3 separate regions of the Homo sapiens genome follow, and all the other regions are linked to region 1. The links come from fine-mapping of genetic effects on gene expression. A gene starts in region 1. Each other region holds a variant in brackets. All regions are shown on one strand. Distances are between the middles of the regions.

Region 1 (5,227 bases):
AAACTGAATGGAAAAACATTAACAAAAACAGTATCCCAGTATGGTCAACAGCTTAACGACCTCAAAACTGAGAATACAATGCTCAAGTCTAAACTGGAGAAGGAAAATCAAAACAAGGAAAGACTGGAAGCTGAAGTTGAGTCATTCCATGCTAGACTGGCTGCTGCTATAAGTGAGTGTGATCAAAGTGTGAAAACAAAAAGAGACCTAGAACTTGCTTTACAGAGAGCACAAGACGTTTCTTTACAAGAAAGAAAATGAGTTCTGATATTTCTGAACTAAAAGATAATAATGAGTTTTTAACTGAGCAACTTTCCGAAGCTCGAATTCAATACCCTAAAAAGTAAACTCCATGACACAAGAAATTCTCTCAGAGAAAAGGTTTTGGTTTTATAAAGTGTACAAAAGGACCTAAGCCAAGTAAATCCTTTGGAAAGTGGGACTACGTAGAGGAGAGAATATCTCAACTACAACATGAAAATCTGTTGCTTCAACAACTAGATGGTGCTCATAAGAAAGGGGATAATGAACAAAAGGTAATTAATATCCAAGGATGCTGTCTTGAGAGTGAAAAGGAAGGTCTTCTGCTAGAAGGGAAAAATAAGGAATTAATCAATGAATGCAATCATTTAAAAGACTGTTTCAGTATGAAAAAGAGAAAGCAGAAGGAGAAGTAAGTATCAAAAAAGATAAATATTTTCAAACTTCCAGAAGGAAAATTTAAAATATTTGGCTACGGCTACATGTTGAACCTAGTTGAATATAAAAATTAATAGACAAAAAATGTGTTTACCATACTGTATAATTCCATTTACATGAAACATCCGGAAAAGACAAATGTATAGATAGAAAGCAGACTGACATTTGTGCGGGGCTGGGGTTGGAAATGGGTAGTAACTGCTAATGTGCAAGAGGGGTCTTCTTGGAGTGATAGAGACGTTCTAAAGTTGCAGTGATGGTTGCATGACTCAATAAATTTACTAAAAATCTTTGAACTGTATGTTAAAAGAGATAAATTCTGTAGTATGTAAACCTTATTTCAATAAAGCTGTTTCAATTAAAAAAACAAAAATTAAAAATAATTTAAAAAAATAGAATGCTAAAGAAATCTCTGACAGGCCACAGTGTGCCATCAAAATTGTCTGACATGAATTGTAAATTAGACTTTTTCTTTTCTAAACTAGAGGCAGAATCTGAAGAAAAAAAATTAAATGAGAATTTTCACACCAGAGCAAACCCAGAAATGATAAGTCAATGAAAATGAGCTTAAGGCAGAGTCCCTTATGGAAAAACAGAGCAATTAACAAGAAACTGGAGGTCCAGCATTTCCTCTCATCCTTTTGTCTGGCAATCAGCGTTTGGGTTCTCAATAATGGAAGTTTTTCTCTGAATTCAGTTTCTCTGGGTCCACCTCAATGATCTCATTCCTTTGGAAATGAGACATACAGTCAAAAGTTCATTGCATGGGTTAGACATTGTTTTTTAACTGCAGAGAGAAAAAGAATAAGGGAAATGGTTTCTAAAATCTTAAGCAAGTGTTGTACTTAGAAAGTTCTAGTCAACAATAAAATTATCCAAAGACAATTAACACAAACTGCACACAAGGAAATGGATTGTCTGAACTCTGCTGCGCTCTTTTCACCTTTCTGCAAGTCAGCTGGAATCCTGTATATCACTGAGAATATCAAATCAAAATTGAGTAATAGGTTCAGTAATTTTTAAAAATTCCCTCAAATCAAATGTTGTGCAATAATAGATGAACTTACAGGAAATAATTTTAAGGTGAGCAAGGTACACTTTTCTTCCAGTATATTTTCATTTTAAAAGGAATTTTTTAGTTCTTATTGCACTTATGAGGAACAAAGCACTGGGCACAAATTGTTACAAAGCACTCATCCCTTGATATGTTTTGTCTTGTATTTCCACATAGACATTTCAACCTCACTGCAAGCCACCTTACCATTTTACTGAGTTAAAACTAAATGAAAACACAAAAGGATGCAAATTAAATTCATCTGCAAAACAAGAGATTACCAAAACAATTAAATGTGAAAAGGTTATCATACTAAATCACTTTTTTTTGTTTGTGTCTTGAACATTCACTATGGAACTGGAATAAGCTTCTGCCACTACCGGCAGTTACAGCTACCACACTTTGGTAAATTCTGTATTCAAACGCATTTCTAAGTCACAGGCTATCTGGGCTACTAGCTGCATGTGCCCCAGGTGCGAATCAAATGAAGTTTTAATTACTGCTACTTGTGATCGGTATCCAATTAGACCTTTTACCCTCCTCCATTAGCAGAGGGCTGTGGCTCAACTTGGTTGTGGAGAGGTTTCCCAATGCCACAGGGCGTCACGATAACTCAATTCGGAGTGAATAATTTAAGAGCAGAGGTGCTTTCTCCCAGGACCCTCGACTCTCGCTGGAATCAGGACCTGCGTGGGTCGCGGGCTGGAAAGAAAATGTCAAAACTGGTAACAGTGCTGACACGTGTGGCCGGAGATGAGCGGTCCGGCCCTCGATCAGGATGGGGGGCCAGTAGCCCCGCCTCCGGCAGCTAGGGCCACACCCCCGGCAGCTAGGGCCGCGCCCTCGACTGTGGCTCCGAGGCCAGGTCCTAGGGCCGAAGTTTCCATCGTCTCACCTGAACTAGGCCGGGCTGGGCCCGGGCACTCGCGGGCCTAGGTTTCCATACCAGGAACCGCTTTAGCCAGCCTGGGGCTGCCTTTAGAGTCGCTGCTGCTTCCGCCTTCTCTCCTGGGGTTTGTGCGCCCTGACTGGCAGCAGGGGGTTGGGCCGCCAGACCCGCCCGTTTCCGCGCCGCCCGAAACTCAGCTAACCGCTGTTCCATGGCGCGCGCCTCGCGTCCGTTGGCCGATAAGGGAGCGCGCGCCCGCAGGCCGCACAGCAGTTGCCTCCGCTCGGCCCGCGCCGGCCGCCGTGCGCCTGCGTGGCAGAAGCCCCTGCTGAGCATGCGCACTGGTGTGACCCGCGTCTCCTCCGTTTGTGAAGTCTGGCGGGTCGCGTGTATACTCAGCCGTTCTCTCTTCACAGGCACGTGGACACAGTGTCACCTCCTCAAGCCAAGTCTAAAGCACAGGGCTGCCCCATTGCCCTCTCCCAAAGGCCGCTCTGCCTTGCTGCATCTCACTTAAGGGCTCGAGGCCCCACTGATCCAGCGTCCTGTATTCGGGATCTCTGTTGCTGGGCCCCAATGAACAGCGCCACAGTGAGAAGATGGTTCCAGGGGTTAGGAGAGGCCCGTGATCTCTACGACATTCCAGCGTCAGAGGAATAACAGGCTACATCTTACCCTTTTTCTCTTATCAAGGAAAGGGTATGCCAATCTTAGTACCTGGAGGGTGACTTTCTCACTGCTCACAAAGCAGGCTGTGCAGCTCCATCATTGGTCTTGCCACGTTGGGAAATTATCTCGTTTTGTGTCTAGATACGTCAGAACCTTAAAAAAACCAACAACAAAAACTTTTATTGGGGTGCAACATAAAATACACATCTTAAGAATATGACTCAGTAGATTTGCTCTTATGTATGCACCTGTGTAACTACCACCCAGATGGAGAGAAAGAACATTTCTGTACTCTGGGAGTTTCCTTGTGCCCTCTCCCAATCAGTACCCTCCCAAAAGGACACAGTTCAGGTTAGGGGCTGTTTTATACGTTCTTAAAGCTGTAAGCATCTAGCTAAGTGTCACTTACATAATTAAGACTCAAATATTTGTTGGATCTGGCTGAGGGTGACTCGAGAAATTAGACAAATTAGAACAGAGTCATCCATTCATTTAACAGACGTTTACCTAGGGCCTGCTCTGTCTAAAGTCACAGGCACTGGGGATGCTGGGATGAAAGGAAAAAACAAACAAAAACCTGTTTTCTTAGAGCTTACACTCCAAATGGAAATACAGACAATAAACAAATGTGTATCTACATATTTCATGTCATATCAGGTACTGATAAGTGCTGTGAAGAAAAGTGAAGCAAAGTAGGCAATGGTGGAGGTATTAGAGAAGACCTCCCTGAAGGTTTGTCATTTGGGCATAGACTTAAATGAGTGAGGTATGTAGATATCTGAACAGGAGTGTTTCAGTCAGAGGAACAAGTGCAAAGGTCCCGAGGCCTCAAATAGCACGCTTGACTTGTTCACAGAACATCAGGGAGGCTGTTATGACTGGATTGGAAGGAGGGAGAGGGAGGCAGGGAGGGAGGGAGGGAAGGAGGGAAGGAGGGAGAGAGGGGGAGAGAGGGAGGGAGGGAGGGAGGAAAGAGTGACAGAAAATAAAGATGCCAGGGGCAAGATCGTGCATGTAAGGCCCTGTAGGCCATGGTGAAGACTAAGTGTGGTGGGAAGCAGTTAGTGGATTTTGAGCAGGAGATGATATGATATGACATATTTTTAAAGGATTACACTGGCTGATGGAGGTGGGACCCTGGAAGATTGCAAGAATAGAAGAAGGGAAACTAGTTAGGAATAAATATGGTAGAATGAGAAACTGTAGTAGTTTGAGCTAGAGTGGTAGTGATGGAGGTCACGAGAATTGGTCAGATTCTGAATGTATTTTGAAGACCTGAGCCAACATGGTGTGAGACGGATTGGATGTGGAATGTGAGGAAAAAAGGTATCAAGGATGACAGGGCCAGCCATCGTGGCTCACGCCTATAATCCCAGCACTTTGGGAGGCCAAGGCAGGGGGATCGCTTGAACCTAGGAGTTCAAGACCAGCCTGGGGAACATAGCAAGACCTCATCGCTATTAAAAAAAAAAAAAAAAAAAAAGGATGACAGGTTTCTTCCATTACTACCCCACTCCTCCTGCCCCCCCATATACATACACACATGCCCTGAGCAACCAGGCAAATGATGCTGGGGCCCTCTATTGAAATGAGGGCACACTGGGAGGAGAGAATTACAGAATAAACACTGGAAGTTTTGTTTTGGACATACAAAGAACTTGGGATGCCTATTGGATATCCAAAAAATAGGCAGTTAGATAGTGAAAATGATTTGAGGGGAAAGTCAGGACCGGAGGCACACACTGGGAGTCATCAGCATGTGTATATTTAAAGCTGTAAGACTAGATAAGATCAAACAGTGAGTGTGGATAAGAAGAGATTTGAGGGCTGAGCCCTGAGTGGATTAGAGATGGTTTGTAAGAGAAAAGAATGGGATTATTACACCACAATGTCCTCTCTTTGAGAAACCACAAGAG
Region 2 (5,227 bases), 29 kb after region 1:
ACAATGTACTTTAGGTGTCTGACACATGGAAATTTCCCCCCAAAAAAGTTTATTGTTGTTAGAAAGATGTTGTATCAGCGAGGGAGGAAGCGGTGTGCTGTGGGGAGGCAGCACTGCATTGTCAAGTTCCTGGGTTGAGTGAAGGCTCTGCCCCTAGCCATTGTGGGCGCCTGAGCAGGTACTCATCTCATCTCAGCTCATCTCCGGAGCTGAGGGTGCCTCCCGGGAATGACGGTGCTGAACAAGCGGATCTCCAGGGTTCATTCTAGTGCCTAAAGCCTGGGTTCTAAAGAACTATAACCAAAGCATGACTAGGAAATTCTCTGATTTAAAACAAAAATAATGCAGACACAGCCAAGTGAGGTTTGTGCCCATTAGAGAAGTCTCTTTGGAAATTTTACTCTTATGATAGTGGTGCTGCCGTTTCTCCAAACATATTCAGAATGGTTTAGAATTATCTGCAGAGCCAGTTCTGGGACCACATAAGACAATCATCTCATCGCTTTAGAGGAAACAAATGTCTTCTTTCTTTTTGTTTATTTTTATTTTTTATTTTTATCCAAAAAAAGGCTCTCATTCCCTTAAGGCAAGTTAGATTCCAGTTTCAGTTTTGTGAACTACTGGAGGATTGTAACTTCATCTCTTTTATCCTTAATTTCTACCTATAGAAATTGGGAATAATAATATCCACCTCAGAGCGTGGACACAGATAAGACAAGGACGCAGAAAGCAGTACCAAGCAAGATGCTGGGCTCAGGGTAGGTGGTAAAACACATGCATATGGGCCAGGCGTGGTTGCTTACGCCTGTAATCCCAGCACTGTGGGAGGCCGAGGCAGGCAGATCACGAGGTCAAGAGATGGAGACCATCCTGGCCAAAATGGTGAAACCCCGTCTCTACTAAAAATACAAAAATTAACTGGGCATGGTGGCGCACATGTAGTCCCAGCTACTCACGAGGCTGAGGCAGGAGAATTGCATGAACCCAGGAGGTAGAGGTTACAGCGAGCTGAGATCACGCCACTGCACTCCAGCCTGGTGACGGAATGAGATTCTGTCTCAAAAAAAAAAAAAAAAAAAAAAAAAGGCGTATGTGCATACGCGCAGACAGACAGACAGACAGACAGACCTTTATCCTTTCATTCCTTCCACATCCCAATTACCTATTTTACCACTTTATCTGCAGAATAAATTCACAGCCCACTAAACTATCAGGCTCCAAATAATTTTCATTCATTTTGAAAAATCAAATATACTTTCAGAGGAAAAGATTTGCCACCATGAAGGATATTCAAAGGGATGTGCCCAGACTCTAAAGATATCTATTTACACCATTTATATGTGTGTGTGTGTTTGTGTACAGTTGGTATTTAGTAAAATCCTTAGCCCCTCTGAATCCCGCAGACAGATCCACAGCCGGTGCTGTGATGCTGAGCCAAGATTCAGGATGATGGACAGGGGCAGGGAAAGATTGAGGACCAGGATTCACTTTGGAGCCAGCCAGACCTGGCCCCCAGGCTCAGGGAAACCCACTTTGGCTGGGTGACCTCCATCAGTCACATCATCCTTTGAAGTCTCAGTTTATTCATCAGGAAAATGAGGACAATAACATAAGTCTCATAAAGTTTGAGGATCGTTAAGTGTTAACTTCATAAACAAGCAAAGAAGAGGCACCAGTGGCTGGGAACGTTAATTCTAATTAAGGCATAAGGCATCAACATGCTTGCATGATATCTCGTGTAGCAGGAAAAGATGGAGTCAGAGGAAAAGGCAGATATGCAGGCTTAACTCTGTCCCAGCACACCTTCTAGAAAGAAAACAGCTGTCTCCTGTAATGTCCAGCTCCCCTGCCCTTCCTAGGTGGAAGGGTGGTGTTTTGTTCTCTCCCGAGGAAACCATTTCTCAGTCTCTCACCTGGTGTAGTCCATTGGGCCCTGAAGCTACCAGGCCAGTTTCAGTCAGTGTTTATGAAATGCCTTTGCCGGAGGCTACCTGATTGGCTTATCAGCCCTGGCCCTGGTAGCATTTCCGTACAATGAGCAGTGACATTTACAGCTTCAAGAAGTGCAAGGGAAACATTTTTCTTGCAGACTCCTCTTTCTCTCTCTAATGAAGCGGTCATTATAATCTTTCAGAGATGGTGCTCAAAAATGTACCCTAGCTTCCCACAGGAGAAACACTGTAAATGTCAGACACCCGATCACACTGTCTGTCTGGAGTGCATAAAACCAGCTGCTTGAACGCTGGAAAACAAAAGTCATGTTTCTTC[C/T]TGTTCTGCAGCCAAGCCTGGCTTCCGCGCATGTGACCTGTGCGGTCGCGCGGAGTCCTTCACTCAGAAGCCTCTGTTCTTGGTTTAATAATCTGCATCTAAAACTGGCACTGTACCATATAAAAATGAATCATAAACTTTAGGCTAAGAATTTACGCTTCTTTGTTTTTCTTTACATAGTTACTTAATGTATTAGTCTGTTTTCCCACTGCTGATAAAGACATATCCAAGACGGGGTAGTTTATAAAGAAAAAGAGGATGAATGGACTCCCAGTTCCACGTGGCTAGGCCTCACAATCATGGTGGAAGTCAAAAGGCACGTTTTACATGGCAGCAGGCGAGAGAAGAGAATGAGAGAGCCAAGTGAAAGGGGAAACCTCTTATGAAACCATCAGATCTCGTGAGACGCATTCATTACCACAAGAAGAGTATGGGGGAACCTCCTCCATGATTCAGTTACCTCCCACCCACCCTGCCAACAACATGTGGGAATTATGGGGGCTACAATTCAAGATGAGATTTGGGTGGAGAGACAGTCAAACCATATCACTTAGTCTTTACTTAAAATGGGGTCTCACTAAGTTACCCAGACTGCTCTTGAATGCCTGGGCTCAAGCAGTCCTTCTTCCTCAGCCTCCCGAGTATCTGGGACTACAGGTGTGGACCACCATGCCTGGCTCCCTCTTTGTACTTTAAATAGCAAATAAAAAGCACCACAAGTTGAGGGATTGCAGAAGAAAGGAGAAAGCTCTTTGTTTTTGTATATGTAACAGCACTTTTGTTCTGCTTTTTGAATGAGGAGCGCTGCATTTTCATTTTGCACTGGGCCCCACAAATTATGTAGCCAGCCCTGTCTGAAGCAGTGTAGAAATAACAGCTGTCTTTATCAGAAGGATAGGAAATAAAAATAAACACAAATTATGAGCACTCTGGCATAACTCACCTAATGATAACCCCTCTCATTGAGACCTCCCTTCTCAGTGTGTGGGCTACTCACTGTCCATGTTTATTCTTAACTGCACTGAAAACTACCCACTGCTGGACACATGTTTCTCTCCATTTCAGTTGCTTGATATTTGATATTCTGAGATTGAATGTAGAATACTGTTTCAGGAAATTACAATTTCATAAACCCTGTGTGAAAAGAAAAGACTCTTCTTTGTCCCTGGACATCTCTCAAAGGCCCTGTCTCTCCATCAGTCTCTCTGCCTCCTGGCTCCTTCTCTTCCACCACTGCCAGTTTTCTCACCCACTTCACATTTCCTGGAGATGTTGGACTGGAGTCACTAGTGGCCCAGAATTCAGACAGGCAACCATGCTCTCCTCTACAATGATAGTGCAGGACAGTAGACAGAAGCAAACATATCTCAGTCACATACTCACCCCCACTTAGGTCAAGCCACACTGATGAACCACAGTTTGGCCTGAGTTCAGCTAAGTGGGATTTCCCAAAATGTGCTTTGAGGGATACTAAGCCCTGAAGATGCCCTATGAGAAATGTGTTCAGCGCTCAAAGGTATTCAAGAAGAACTGCATAATTGCTCCTCTTTTTGAAGACTCACAAAGCACGGTAGCATCATTAAAGGCTCTGAGAAGTTCTGCAGCAGAAAACAAGCACACAAAACATCCAACCTGTTTCACTTTGATTAACCCAGAATTTCCAAAACTTGTTATTTTCCAAACTGGTTTTTATCTGCTTCTTTGGTGTAACACCTTTGAACATGCCCAGAATCAACAGCGTGTTCCAAGCCAGGCTCTGCACTCACACTCTCTAGATTCACCTCATGGATCCCGGGGGATCCATGCTTGTGCCAGGATCCCGGAGGAAGTCTCTTAATCTCTCCAAACCTCAGTTTTGTCGTTAGTAAAATGGTATTAATAATCCTAGTTTATAGGGTTGTTGTGAGGATTAAATAAGATCACATGTGAAACATCCGCAGCAGGCACTTGATGAGGTTGTTATTAAAACGCTAAGGATGTGTTTCCCTCCCTGCCTGCAGCAGTCATATCCTGTCCGTCTTCATGTTTCCTGGTCCATCTGTCTCTGTTTTCTTAACCTTCAACTTTGGGCTCAACTTTGGGTTCATTATGAAGTCAGCACCCACCAGCCCAATAACCTTGTGTCTGTGGTTCTCATCTACCAGTGCTGGGGGCAGTTTTATAAATCACTTTTTCTTATCCCCATCCTGAAACTGGACTACAGTGGGGAGTGGATCAGAGGAGGTCAAGAAGCTACTTTTTGCTAGCCTATGATGAAAAGTTTATGGTTTGTGTCCTAATTTGAGAAACGTGGGGTTTTTAAAATGAGACATTCCTTTAAAGGCACCCAAGTGTTTACAGCTATAAATATCGCAATGCAATAAAATCTGGCTGGGCCCTCTGGCTGGTGAGAGACAGACACCCAGCCCCGAGCTCAACAACATCCAGAGGCAGGACATCATATTCATGGAAGATTCTGGTTAGTGGGACTCTGTTCTATGATAAGATTTTAAATCAATGCAAGAGCACCAATGCAGTTAATGCAATGTTCTGTGCCAGGCTGGCTATTGCTGATTCTTTCTCTGCTTCTTAGGTCATCACGACAGCTCTAATCACAGGGCCTTGTCTCTCTCTGATGGGCCTGATAAGGAGGATCCAGGGAACCTTCCTGAACCTACTGGGTAAATGCAGAGAGGAGAGCATCATGAAGCCACTTTTTAGTGAGGTCTTTTGTAGAAGTAGGAGTCAGGGCACAAAGCAGAAACCACTCTGTCAAGCCCCAGTCAGACTTAATCCAAGCAATCAGATGTCAGGGGCCACCCCGAGGCTAATGGTTCAAGATCACATTTCCACAGCTGCAGGTCAGAGGTCAGGAACTGCTGTTGCTGCCCCTGCTGCTGTCACCATGGTTGTTGTGAGCCCATGAAGCTGGTGACCAACAACTGGAACTTGGTGTCTGGCTACTGCAACCACATCTGCC
Region 3 (5,227 bases), 22 kb before region 1:
TGAGAGTGAGGTGCTGTCAGGGCTGAAAAGGACGCACCTCATTCTACATTTGGATGTGATGAGGAGCAGGGCAGCCACCAGCTTGGATCCTAACTTACATTGGGTGGTGCAACCTTTCTGACGGGGCCTGCCAAACTATCAGTAATTAGCCAGCCTAGACAATGTAGCATGACTAATTATTGCTGTGTCAAAGCAATTCAGGACAAGAAAAACATATCTAAATGAGAATGTTTAGATGTGGTGAGAAAAGAGCTCTCACCACAATTTGAAACATATAAAAAGTTGAGTTCTTTGCAGGGGAGCCAACGGGGGCATTGAGGGAAGGGCAAAATTCACCCCAGACAGCCAGTGCTTGATCTTGCCAAACAGTTTACACTTTACCTCCAAACCTGCAGTTCTAAGCTACTCCACTAAAATAATCATCCCATCCTCAAAGCAGACCAACTCCAGCATCCCATCGGTTCTGGAGGGATTTGATGCAAACCTTTAAATGCACCAACAGAGAGGTAAGCCAAGCTCTCAGGAGGGACAAAGATAGATTTCTATCTTCAGTGCTCTTGGGGGATGTTTGCTCCTCATGAGTGTTTAAACAAGATCATTTCCAGGTGATTTCTTAACATATAAATTCCTGCAAAATAGGACCAGCTTCTATAGGTAGCGAATGTGTAGGTCATATAATTCCTTGTACAGATGTGAATGGATGCAGACTCTTTCCTAATTTGCCTTGTAAGCCAAATAAAAGTCTGTCTCTACTGTCTCTCTTGCTCTTCCTTTGCGAAAGGAGGCTTTCTGCAATGTCAATCCAGGTGACTCACAGTGCAGTGGGAAAACACAAAAGATGCCGTTTCCAGCCAAGGAAAAAAACCTTGCTCATTACTCACACCGTGATTTTCATCTTCAAAGCACTCACCAAGTACTAATTTATCCATCGCAGCCTTTATGCAGGGACTGCAATGTCATTTAATTAGAGAAGTTGGGTGGTCGAGTGGCTTAAACAATAACTGATGGCCAAATGGATGTGTATTTTAATTCCGCTCATTCATTCGATCTCTCCTGTCTAAATGAACTCAGTCCATTAAATCCATTAAAAAAAAAGTCATAAAAGCATAAGCTTTGTTTGCAAAGCAGCCACAGAATTTGAATGGAACTGCTGTTTAGAAATTCATCTTCAGAAAAAATGAACTTTTCTCCAATTTAAATAATCACTCACTCTCCAGATTTGCAACTCACTCTTATAGAAGGGCAGAGGAATTGCAGATTCTCCTAATTCCCCCATCATTTCAGCTACACCTATTTGAAGGTCGGTGTACTTACCTGAAAGTATCTTTAAACATCCGCTTTTTAGACAAGCTGTGGTAATTGTCCCTTTCAAACATAAGAATAATTCTTACCCTGAGAGCAAGTTATACCTACAGCCAACTCCTGATAGCAGCAGGTGGAACATCTGCATTTGTTTCTCTGCACCAATCTTGCTTTTGAGTTAATTCCCTCCCCTATGGATATTCTTACCTTTCTGTGCCCTTCCCCTTCCACTTAACAGGACCAAAATAGAGGTTTTTATCCCCTCCCTACCTTCCAGGAAAACATCCACCCAAACCAATTAATGACCACCACATTTCTAGGTAGCTATTACAAATAATAGAAATCAGGTAGAAGTGCACCTTCTTTCTCTGAGGTTGCACTGTGGCTTAATAAGGGCTTGACCTCAGCCTAAAGAAAGGGGGTTGGGGAGCTGCCCTGCTGTTCCGAGGCCTAGCCACTGGGGAGACAAATGAGAATTCTTGGCTTCCAGACTCATTCATCCTCACATGCAATATAAAGCCATATTCTAGTGACTGCTGCCCCCAGATGGGGAAGACTGTGTTCCACATAGAGTTTGTGAAGGATCTCACTCACATGCCATGCATATCAGCATTTTCAAGGTTTGAGAACTCCTGTCCCCTTCCCTTATTATCCTCTCAAAACCCTGTGCCATGAACATATGGCAGTTCAGTCTCTTTCAATCTCTGTCTCTGTCTCTTCCTCTGTCCTTCCTTTTTCCCTCCTTCCCTACCCACCCTCCCAACACATACACACAAAGAGAAAGACTGGAAACAGTGAGGTTTTCCCCATCAGAAGTAGAGAAATAGTTGGTGGGGCAGAGAGGGAGGGCTGG[G/A]AACTAGCAGCACAAGCTGGACTACATGACAAATGCAGCCAGATGGTTGGAGAAGATGGGAACAGAGATCCAATATTGTGTGACTACAAGGAAGGAGTCGAACTGAGTGTCCCCAAGGTGGGAAGGGTAGGTGAGGAAGAGAAGATGAAGAGGCCAGAACATAAGTAGATAAAGAAAAAAGAAAAATAGCAGACTGTTTAACTGTGAAAAAGGGCTGTAGTGAAAGAGGGGAGGAAATTGCAGAGGAGGAAAAAAGAATGAGAATTACAAGTGGCATGCGACAAGGAACTAGGTTAGGAACCCTATCTCCAGTCAGTGTTATTAACTCCATCTTCCATAAATCTGAGCTCTTTCCCTGTAGCGTTCTCTAATCCTAAGCGGTGATAGAATATTTTCTTTTGTACAAAAGCTCATTTTAACTAACACAATGATTTTGGAAAGAGAAAAAGACCCGCGGCCCAGAGTGAATCCAACAAGACTTTTATTTTTTTCACACTGACACTGGGCACCAATGTGAGAATGAATTACTATGGCTCCCCCTCATGTAGGACAAATAGACCTTAGAATTTATTTGTGGTACAACCTCCAACTACAAACAAAATCAATAGCTGAGAATTACAAACACTGGGGAGTCCCATGCTGAGGGATGGATTGCCTTAGAGCTAATGCAGGCTGGTAACACCCAGAGGCGATTAGCAGGCTTTTTTTTTTTTTTAACTTTCCAAATCTTTAGGGTGAAAGAGCAAGGACTTGAGGCAGTAAATGATATTTACACAAAACTTTTTTAATGCCGATGACCTAAGGTTGCATTAGAAACACACTTGGCAACTACACAAACTAAATAGTGACAACAAAAAGGCCATGGTTACTTTACCCTTTAGCTCCAGTCTTTGACAATCTGTAACCATTATGTACATTTCTGGCTGAAAAAAAAGCAGTGTTTTACCATATTTTTGCCCTCCAGAACCCTTCTGAACCTTCAAAATTCCTAGGAAATTGAATTTACAGCTTTAATAAAACCCTCTGCTACCCATCGATTAGATGCTACTTGACAATAAAACCACCCTCAAGCTCTTTCATCTTTCAAATCCTGGTGTTAAAAGTAGAGACTAGAGAAGCCAAACCAGAGACACACACCAAAGCAAAGACATTTCCCCCTAGTTAAGTTAAATCAATGTCCTTCCAATGGCATCCTTTGGAAAGGTACAGTTAAAAATACAGATGAAGTCTGGGCGCAGTGGCTCATTCCTGTAATCCCAGCACTTTGGGAGGCCGAGGCAGGTGGATCATGAGGTCAAGAGATCGAGACCATCCTGGCCAACATAGTGAAAACCAATCTCTGCTAAAAATACAAAAATTAGCTGGGTGTGGTGGCGTGCACCTGTAGTCCCAGCTACTTGGGAGGCTGAGGCAGGAGAATCACTTGAACCCGGAGGCAGAGGTTGCAGTGAGCTGAGATTGCGCCACTGCACTCCAGCCTGGAGACACAGTGAGACTCCGTCTCAAAAAAAAAAAAAAAAAAATACAGATGAAAAGATTTCTCATGTACACTCATTATATGAAAGAACCATGTTACATTAAGAATTATACTGTGTTGAAATATTCTCAGCTGTCAAGAAAAACATCTATAACATCCCAGCTACATAAAGCATTTACAAAAACACCTTCTAGAAATTGGTAAAGATTGTGAAGCCTGCCAAACAAGGCATGGTGGTGCCACAAGTCCAGAAAGAATGCCACCCGTGGGGTCTCAGAATCAGCTGTAACGGCAGTGCTCTCACTCACTCTCCTAGCCTTGAACAACATCTGCTTCTCAAATACAGACCTTCCTTCTGGCAGGAAGGGGCCCTTACCTCTCAGGCTCCATGACTGAGTTAGTCTTGCTGTCACTTGTTACATGAGAAATGCAATAGCTCTTGAGACATTCTGTATCCATGGTGCATATCTCCTGGGAGCATGCCAAGCCACCCAAATCCCAGTAATACCCCCAAGTTAGAGTCATCTCCATAATGAAGTGTGGGGCTCATGCACCCTCTGCATTGGCCACCCACATGAAGAACAGCTTTCTTCAGCCGCACTAAAAATGATGCATAGATGTAGATTTCCAAAGGCTATAGCAGCAAGATCACAGAAACCTTACATGAACTTCAGAATCTGACTTCTCTCTCTTCCTTGGGGCTGGATCCTCCAAAGCGATCAGATTCTAACATGAATTTCCAAAATGATCATGTTTCTTCAGGAAATGTCTCTTACAGGGCCCCTACTCACCCTGCATTGCCCAGCCTTTTATTAGGCCATGAGGATTCTGGGAAAAATGCAAATTGTCTAGGAAATGCTCCTCTTTGCAGAAATAGTTTTTTGAAAATTATATATGGGACAGAACCTGATAATAATCTATGAGAAGAGCCAGAATAGCCAAAGACATTTTTTTTTATTGATGAGGATCTAGAACAAGGCGATTGTTTCATACCAATCTGGTGCCATTTCACAATATGTTTGGCACTGCCAAACTTAGTCTAAATCTCAGAGGAAAAGTCATTAGAAGAAAAATGATTAAAACAAGCTCTGCAAAACAAAGCTATTTCTGTCCCTAGAGATGGTCCACTGTAAATGAACTGCCATGTATATAAAGAATACTCTGCCTGTCAGCACATATGCTTTTCTCTAAGAGTTATTAAAATAAGATCAATATTATTAGTGAAGCAATCAATGAAATATTTACCGAGAGAGAAAGGCAGTAAAGGACATGGAGATATGGGGGTAGGGTGCTATTTTAGGCTGGATGGTCAGGGAAGGCCTCTCTGATGAAGTGACATCTGAGAGACCCCAGTGGAGTAAGGGAGCAAGACCTAGGATCATCTAGGGGAGTGAGTTCCCAGAAAAGGCAACAGTGAAAACCCTAAAGCAGAAAGAAGCATATTTAGTTTGTTAGATCAGTAAACTATGGTTCACCACCTGATTTTATCAATAAAGTTTTATTGGCTCATTCATTTACTTATATATTGTCTATGGATGCTTTTGCTCTACAATGGCAAAGTTGAGTAATTGCAACAGAGACAGTTTGGTCAACAA

What was found.
Region 2: its variant is fine-mapped to the expression of SAYSD1 in whole blood (TOPMed, PIP above 0.99). The same link has a PIP of 0.9 or more in blood mononuclear cells.
Region 3: its variant is fine-mapped to the expression of SAYSD1 in B cells (Fairfax 2012, PIP 0.95). The same link has a PIP of 0.9 or more in monocytes after muramyl dipeptide.

What each region holds. Positions count from the first base shown.
Region 1 is chr6:39,112,235-39,117,461 of GRCh38, forward strand. SAYSD1 (SAYSVFN motif domain containing 1) reads right to left here and starts at 2,952. Exons shown (of 2, transcript NM_018322.3): 1 at 2,649-2,952. The coding sequence starts at 2,855. It also overlaps the pseudogene ANKRD18EP. RefSeq lists an enhancer at 2,546-2,835.
Region 2 is chr6:39,141,441-39,146,667 of GRCh38, forward strand. No RefSeq gene overlaps it. Among named protein-coding and RNA genes, the nearest start is that of SAYSD1, 29 kb to the left of the region's middle. The variant C/T (reference allele first, on the strand shown) is at 2,269.
Region 3 is chr6:39,090,547-39,095,773 of GRCh38, forward strand. GLP1R (glucagon like peptide 1 receptor) reads left to right here. Exons shown (of 13, transcript NM_002062.5): 13 at 1-757. Among named protein-coding and RNA genes, the nearest start is that of MIR9983, 19 kb to the left of the region's middle. The variant G/A (reference allele first, on the strand shown) is at 2,156.